Homo sapiens: one gene and its partner. The protein of the gene in region 2 interacts with the protein of the main gene of each other region in a biochemical or structural test. Each region holds a gene or a part of one and is shown on either strand. Other genes may lie near its edges. The genes, in order: CUL1 and FBXW8.

The links.
Region 1: the proteins of FBXW8 (region 2) and CUL1 form a complex in vitro, tested with the Homo sapiens proteins (one study listed by BioGRID).

Annotation. Positions count from the first base shown.
Region 1 is NC_000007.14:148,750,893-148,754,716, forward strand, and holds part of CUL1 (cullin-1), read left to right. Parts: intron 1-3,083; coding exon 3,084-3,258; intron 3,259-3,824. UniProt on the Homo sapiens protein: Core component of multiple cullin-RING-based SCF (SKP1-CUL1-F-box protein) E3 ubiquitin-protein ligase complexes, which mediate the ubiquitination of proteins involved in cell cycle progression, signal transduction and transcription.
Region 2 is NC_000012.12:116,987,139-116,990,962, reverse strand, and holds part of FBXW8 (F-box/WD repeat-containing protein 8), read right to left. Parts: exon of another isoform or gene 3,626-3,824; intron 2,301-3,625; coding exon 2,094-2,300; intron 1-2,093. UniProt on the Homo sapiens protein: Substrate-recognition component of the Cul7-RING(FBXW8) ubiquitin ligase complex, which mediates the ubiquitination and subsequent proteasomal degradation of target proteins.

The DNA of each region.
Region 1 (3,824 bases), on a different chromosome or scaffold from region 2:
ACCAAGAGTTTGAGGCAGTAGCCTGCTATGATCATGTCTGTGAATAGCCACTGCTCTCCAGCCTGGGCAACATAGTGAGATCCTGTCTCTTTAAAAAAAAAAAAAAACAAAACAAAACTGTCTATGCCCTAGAAATGGATATTAAAACCATAATAAACCACAGTATGAATGCAAGGCCAAGGTTGTGGTCGATGAAAACTCATGCACTACAGGGTGCTGGATAGCCGCTTTGTAGCACTAAGTTGGCAACTCTTAATAAAGTTAAACCCACCACTTTGGGAGGCCAAACAGGAGGATTGCTTGAGCCCAAGAATTTTGGACCAGCCAGGGCAACATAGCAAGACCCCATCTCTACAAAAAATTGTTTAAAAGGGCCTGGCAAGGTGGCTCACATCTGTAATCCTAGCAACTTTGGGAGGTCGAGGCAGGTGGATTGCCTGAGGTCAGGAGTTCAAGACCAACCTGACCAATATGGTGAAACCCTGTCTCTACTAAAAATACAAAAATTAGCCAGGAATGGTGGCAGGCGCCCGTAATCACATCTACTCAGGAGAATCGCTTGATCCCGGGAGGCAGAGGTTGCAGTGAGCCGAGATTACATCACTGCACTACAGCCTGGGAGACAGAGTGAGACTCTGTCTCAAAAAAAAAAAAAAAAAAAACCTCTCTTGTCACTTTGTCACTTAGTATTTCTGTGCTCCAAGAAACTTGTACTCAAGGAGACCTGCTAGTTTTATTCTTTGCAGCTTTGTAAATACACAAAAAATAGGTATCTGCCAAAAGGACTATTAGCAAGGTCCACCACCAAGAGAGTTGATGAAGTATTGTAAATGTGCGTTACACAGTATATTACAGCTGCGGCTATGTCAGATACCATCAAAAACAAATGGCAGAGCAAATGTACATATTACAGTTTGTATAATTTAAAAATGTAGAACATGGCCAGACGCGGTGGCTCACGCCTGTAATCCCAGCAGTTTGGGAGGCCGAGGAGGCTGGATAGCCTGAAGTTGGGAGTTTGAGACCAGCCTGACCTACATGGAGAAACCTCATGTCTACTAAACATACAAAATTAGCCAGGCGTGGTGGCGCCTGCCTGTAACCACAGCTACTCGGGAGGCTGAGGCAGGAGAATCGCTTGAACCCAGGAGGTAGAGGTTGTGAGCTGAGATCACGCCATTGCACTCCAGTCTGGGCAACAAGAGTGAAACTCCATCTCAAAAAAAACAAAACAAAATGTAGAACATGTGAAATATATTTGATACACATTTATCCAGCAAAATATAAAAACATAGGAATGATATATACCAAATCATGGTGCTATTTGCTAGGGTAAGAGGAAGGAGTGGGATGAAAGAGGGAGAATATAGTGCTTCACTTATAACCTGTAATATTTTATTTTCTCAAAAGTTGAGGGAGGCTGTAGGTGGAATATGAGACAAGTGTGGGAATGCAGTAAGATCTATCAAAACTGGGTCATGAGTATACAGTAGTTGTTTATTGTAATCTGTGATTCTCTATACAATTGAAATAGTTAATAATTTTTCATTGTTTTAAAGTATAGTTCTTTGATTATTACCTAGATTGGTTATTTTATTAGGTTTGGGGGCATTAGTATATATTTATTTTACCTTTTAGATTTTCTGTGGTATATTTTGTTCATGTTTCCATAGAGATTCATTTTTTTAATTGCTTTAAATTACCTTAATTTATTAAAGATAGTTTAAGGTATTTCATCTTAATCTACAATTTTGAATTTATTTATTTATTTTTTGAGACAGAGTCTTGCTCTGTCGCCCAGGCTGGAGTGCAGTGGCATGATCTCAGCTCGCTGCAAGCTCCGCCTCCCGGGTTCATGCCATTCTCCTGCCTCAGCCTCCCGAGTAGCTGGGACTACAGGCGCCTGCCACCACGCCCGGCTAATTTTTTGTGTGTGTTTTTAGTAGAGATGGGGTTTCACCGTGTTAGCCAGGATGGTCTCAATCTCCTGACCTTGTGATCCACCTGTCTCGGCCTCCCAGAGTGCTGGGATTACAGGCGCGAGCCACCGCGCCCAGCCTGAATTCATTTTTTTGTGTGATCTTACTTAGAAAGGGCCGCTCCAGCCTGAGAACAGATAAGCGTTCACATATATATTCTTGGTTTTACTGTTTTAGCTTGTATATTTTAAATCTTAATCCATTTGTAATATATTTTGGAATATAACATGGAATATTTAGAAATATCTTGCCCTCATGCCATTTATTAGATAATCTATCTTTTACCCGTTGTCTTGAAGTATCTTTATATAGTAAATTCTTAATTATACCAGAATATTGTTTTGTTCTGTTTTGTTGATCTTTCTGAGTATAAGTATCTTTCCGTTCATTTTATTCAATTAATAATACATGCAGATAAGCTCATCATATTTAAAGGATACAACAGAACACGGTGGTTTTCTGCCCTGCCTGGCCCCATCTTCTCATTCTCTGCGCTCCCCCTGCAGATGCAGCTGTTTTGCAATCAGCTGTCTGTGCTGTGGTTTATACATCTCTCTCTTTCTCAGGAGTGTGTGGACACTGCTGCCGTTCACTGATAAGTTTTAGATGGCTATGACTATTGTAATATAAGGACTTGGCTCTCTGAGTCATTTTAAAATAAAGTTTGTGTTATTTCAATATTTAGAATCTGTGCCTCTGAAAAAGTTACAGCTGAGCATCATAATAGACAGTGCTTATTGTTAGCTTTTTGTTTTTCCTGGAGTCAGTAATTGCATTTTTCTTTTGGGACAGTTTTCCACAAGGTCAGTCACATCAGATAATCTAAAAGGTCCAGATTTTTTTATAGGCAACCTCCCTCCTGGAATGTTCCCTTCTCCACCTTGGCGGTGTTGCTCTCAAGGCCTACCAACAACCTTGTGAATGGGGCTTGTTGACTTTTAGCTTTATGGATAGTGTGAATGGGATCTTTGTTCCATTCTAGTTTTTAACAGGTTTTGGTTGATATATTGGGAATGCATTGGTAATGAAATATAAGAAAATATGTTTATGTTAATGACCGTTAACGTCTGTGATATATGTTGGTTTCCTTAACTTTTCTCCAAGTCATGTTTATAACTACTGTACTAGTGTTCACCAGTCAAACCAAGCACGAGGAGCTGGAGTTCCTCCTTCTAAGTCGAAAAAGGGGCAGACACCTGGAGGAGCTCAGTTTGTTGGCCTGGAATTATATAAACGACTTAAGGAATTTTTGAAGAATTACTTGACAAATCTTCTTAAGGTAAGATGTTTTATATATATACTGAGTATTCATAACAGGATATAAAAAAAGTGAAATAATGGTTCTAACTTGTTAAATCTTTCACTGTCATCTGTTACTGTTTTAGACACTAACGTAGGTGACAGTGTTTTGCTATTGCATAGTCTTTTACCTACTGTGAATATGAAATCACCATAAACTATATTCTAGGGTTTTGTTTTTTCGAGATGGAGATCTCACTATGTTGCCCAGGCTGGATTTTTGATCTCCTGGGCTCAAGTGATCCTTCCACTTCGGCCTCCTGAGTAGCTGAGACTCTGCAAATGCTCACCACCGTGCCCAGCTCTTTCTGTTTTTTAAAATTAGAAAGCTTTGATAACCTTTTAGCATAATAGTGCTTTCGTTAAATTACCAACCATTTTGGATTTGGTTGTTAGAAATGATGAACTTTTTCATTTAAAGCAAATATGTATTCAAATTATCTGCATTTTACTGTGAACCCAATGTGGTGTTCCCTATCAAGGTGTAGAAATAATTGTAAGGTTATTCAGTCTTGGAAACCATGTTTTTCAAATGTGATCTTGCTC
Region 2 (3,824 bases):
ACCCAGGCTGGTCTCAAACTCCCAGCCTCAAGCCATCCTCCTGACTTGGCCTCCCAGAGTGCTGGGATTACAGATGTGAGCCACTGTGCCCAGCCAGGGACTATACATTTTTAACCAAGGATTTTTCACAAAATTAATGTGTTTATCAGCTGATTCTTACAGTTAATGCTTTTAGTTGAGTTGGAAATTTTGAGAGGAATCAAAAAAACCCCACTGCCTTACATCTGTATCTGAAGGATCCTTGTGCTGAACTGTCCCTTTAAGTAGTTTCTCAAATGTATCCATTACAACTGTATTACTACAGGAATAAATCCATTCAGATAAGTCAAGGAGAAAACATTTATAAAAAGTATGAAAAATTTAAACCAGACTGGTACTGAATATAACTATCACCTCTCTATACTGAGAGCTCTAAAAATAAATGAGATAACACAAACTTGAAAGCATACCAGATGAAAAATTAGAAAGCAAAATGGTCTCCCCTCTCTCAACAAATGAGCTCACCAGGGATGGGAAAAGAAAGTTTTTTTAGAGCATGAGAAAGGAAACTGCCTTAGGAAACAATTCCTGCTCCTTCCCCACTTCCTGGGAAGACAAAACTCAGGAGTAATATCATGACACATCTTCCAGCTAGGACACAACGGAGATGCCCCAACCAAACTGCACACCAAATTTGCAGCACAAATGAGATGATAAAGTTTGCAGCACAAGGGGAGGCCTTTTCACAGTGAGATGATAAAGTTTCACATTGAGATGATAGGATGCCACACATATCGTCTACCGCTTAGTCTATCTTCCTGGATGAAGAATATATCACTGGGATCCAAGATGCTTCCATTCTTGACCATTTACTAGTTTGCAAAGCCAATCACACCTACATAAATGAGATTTGACCTTACAGGTCAAATACATGGAGGAAGTAAGATGTAAAAATAGGCACCACCAGAGGCTGGAATCCAACTATGGGTGGGAGGAATAACGGGAGGTTCAGGAGCTAACAGGTCGGGAGCTCTCATGTGCCAGGCACCATGCCTCAAGCTTTACATATGGCTTTTCATTTAATCCTACAACTCTAAGAAGCAGGCACTATTATGAACTCTATTTTACAAATGAGGAAACTGAGGCATAAAGAGGGTTAAGGAAACTACTAACAGTCACACAGGGTCTGCTGGCCCAGACACGTTCCTTCGCAGGAATCCCACCAACTGACAGAATGGGTCAGGAGCAGGGAAATTGGGAAAAAACCCAAAATGAAACAAAAACTTTCTCTCTCTCCCCCTTGGTCCCACTGGTAGGGAGAGTTCTATAAATCAGCTTTTAGACTAAGTATTTGGCCTATAGTCAGGATAGTAACATGCTAGGGAGTGATAAAATTTAGTCATCACTCAAAGAATTTCCATTAAAAACCTGTCTTCCTGCTTTTGGCTCAAAGAGCATCAGAATGCACTTTTATGCACTGTTGGTAAGAATGTGAATTCTGATGCACCTTTTTAGAAGGGCAATTTGAAAATGTCCATCATTATCTCAAGTACACATCCTAGAGATACACTATATATAAAAGGACTTCTGCAAGCTGCAATATGCATTGTAGCATTGCTTATAGCAGCCAACACAGTGAAAGCAAGCTAAACACCTACCAGTGAGGGGCCTGGCTAAACAGGCTATGAGCTAGAAGCATATGCTGGAATCCTAGAGAGGGAGAGCTTGGTAAAAGCTGACATGGAATCCTCTCTCCAAGGCACATTATGGAGTAAAAATGTTGGGTACAGAACACTATGTATACTATGATCCCATCTCTACAACAATATGTTTTTAGTATACAAATGTACCTATATATGCATTAAATTTTTCTAGATGGATACCTAAAAACTGTTAATAGTTTCTTCTGTGCAGGGAAGTTGGGGGAAGGGAGGAGAAAGAAAATGATTACTTTTCATTTGCAATCCTTTTGAAGTTCTTGAATTTTTTGACCATGCTTATATACTGGCCTGATATATCTGGAAAAATATTGAAGAGCTTTAATTTTTCAATTCCCTTCTAAAAAATAAATCTATATTCTTTTTTGTTAATTATATATCTTGCTAGTTGTGTACCTTGCTTCCTTCGTACACCCATCCCAGACCCTGTACACCAAAAGCAACTTGGTTGGCCGAGACGTCTAGACATGTGACAGGCGGGCCGTGGGCGTAAAGGAGGGTTCTGGCGGAGTCTTCGGCTTTGAGCAGGTACATCAGATCTCCAGCAGCGGCTACTGCCACAGGGTACCTTCTGGTTTCTGGAACTATTTCAAGGTACTGAACCTGTTAAAAGGTAAGAGTTGTTTAGTCCCATAAATTCATCCTGACTTGATCAAAAATATGCAATTCCACCTACACATCAATGAGAAGACCAGCAACCCAACAGAAAAAGATGGGCAAATGAAACACTCACAGGAAATGAAACACAAACAGCTCTTACACAACAGAAAAGATGCTCAGTATAAGAGAAACATAAGACACACCTAAAAAGAGAAATATAAAATGAAAATTCATTGAAATATGATGCTTCACCTTTCATATCGGTAAAGATCAAGAAATCTGATAACACCCTGGGCTGGAAGTGAAGGAGGGAAAACCATGTTCCATGTTTCTGGATCCCACTTACTGCTGGTGGGGATATAATCTTGTCCAACTTGTATCAAGGGAACTTTGGCTACTCTTATCAAAATACCAAATGAACATGCACTCTGACCCAGGATATCCACTTCTAGAAGTTACTTACAAATAAACTCACATATATAAAAAATGATTATGTACAAGGTTATTCATGAACTGTAGTACAATTGTGTCTTAGCTAAAAACTAGAAAAACAGAAACACCCATTACTAAGGGACTAATTAAATAACTCAGTGTATCTATACGCTGGAATACCATGCAGTCCTAGAGGGAAGCATGAAAACGTTCTTTATAAAACGAAACAAATGGCATGGTTCTCCCAGATAAGCTTAGCGGGTAAAGCAAGGATGCAAGATGAGTTAGGTAACCCCACCTGCTGACATGTGTACAAGGTGGGGGTGGAGAAAGTACACAATGCGCTTGACTCGCACATCCATACATCTTCTAACAATGGCTGCCTTCAAGGAGGGAAGTGGATTATGAGATGGGGAGATTTCCCACCATCAGCTTTATTGTGTCTTTTAAATTCTGAACCATGGGGATGTAATAGCAATTCAAAAAATAAAAGGTTGGGGTTTTTTTGGTTTTGTTGTGTTTTTTGTTTGTTTGTTTGTTTACAATGAACTGAATAAATAACATTCAGCTCCAAATTCGCAAAAAAAATTTTAACATTTGTGTCAAAATGTGTGGCCAAAAGGTTAAAAATATCCAAGTGATCTGCTGTCTCCTGGTTTCAACGTCATCAGGGTCCATTTGGCCACCAGAGGGTAAGGAAGGCTCTACAAACACGCATGTTTCTACCCACCCCGCTCCCCAGTCCTGACTGCGTCACCGCCGGCACTTTCTCTAATGTGCACGAGTCTGAGACGCACTTTTCAAGAATAATTTGATTCTGTCCATCCACAGGCGGCCCATTTCTCCGCGGTGCCGTTCGCAACAGGCTTTCGCCTCTGCGAGTAAATCACGAGAGGACACATAGAAGGTGAGCCACACTAATTATGAAAATCCACAGTGTGAAAGGACAGCGCTGCCCTGACCATATGCCAAAGAGTTCAAAGCCGGCCTCCAGAACACGGTCCAGAAGAGCTGGAGGGAGCGTCAACATCCGGGGGACTCTGCTAATACTCGGGCCCAGCTCCGCAAGCTGCGGGTCCATCACAAAGGACAGCC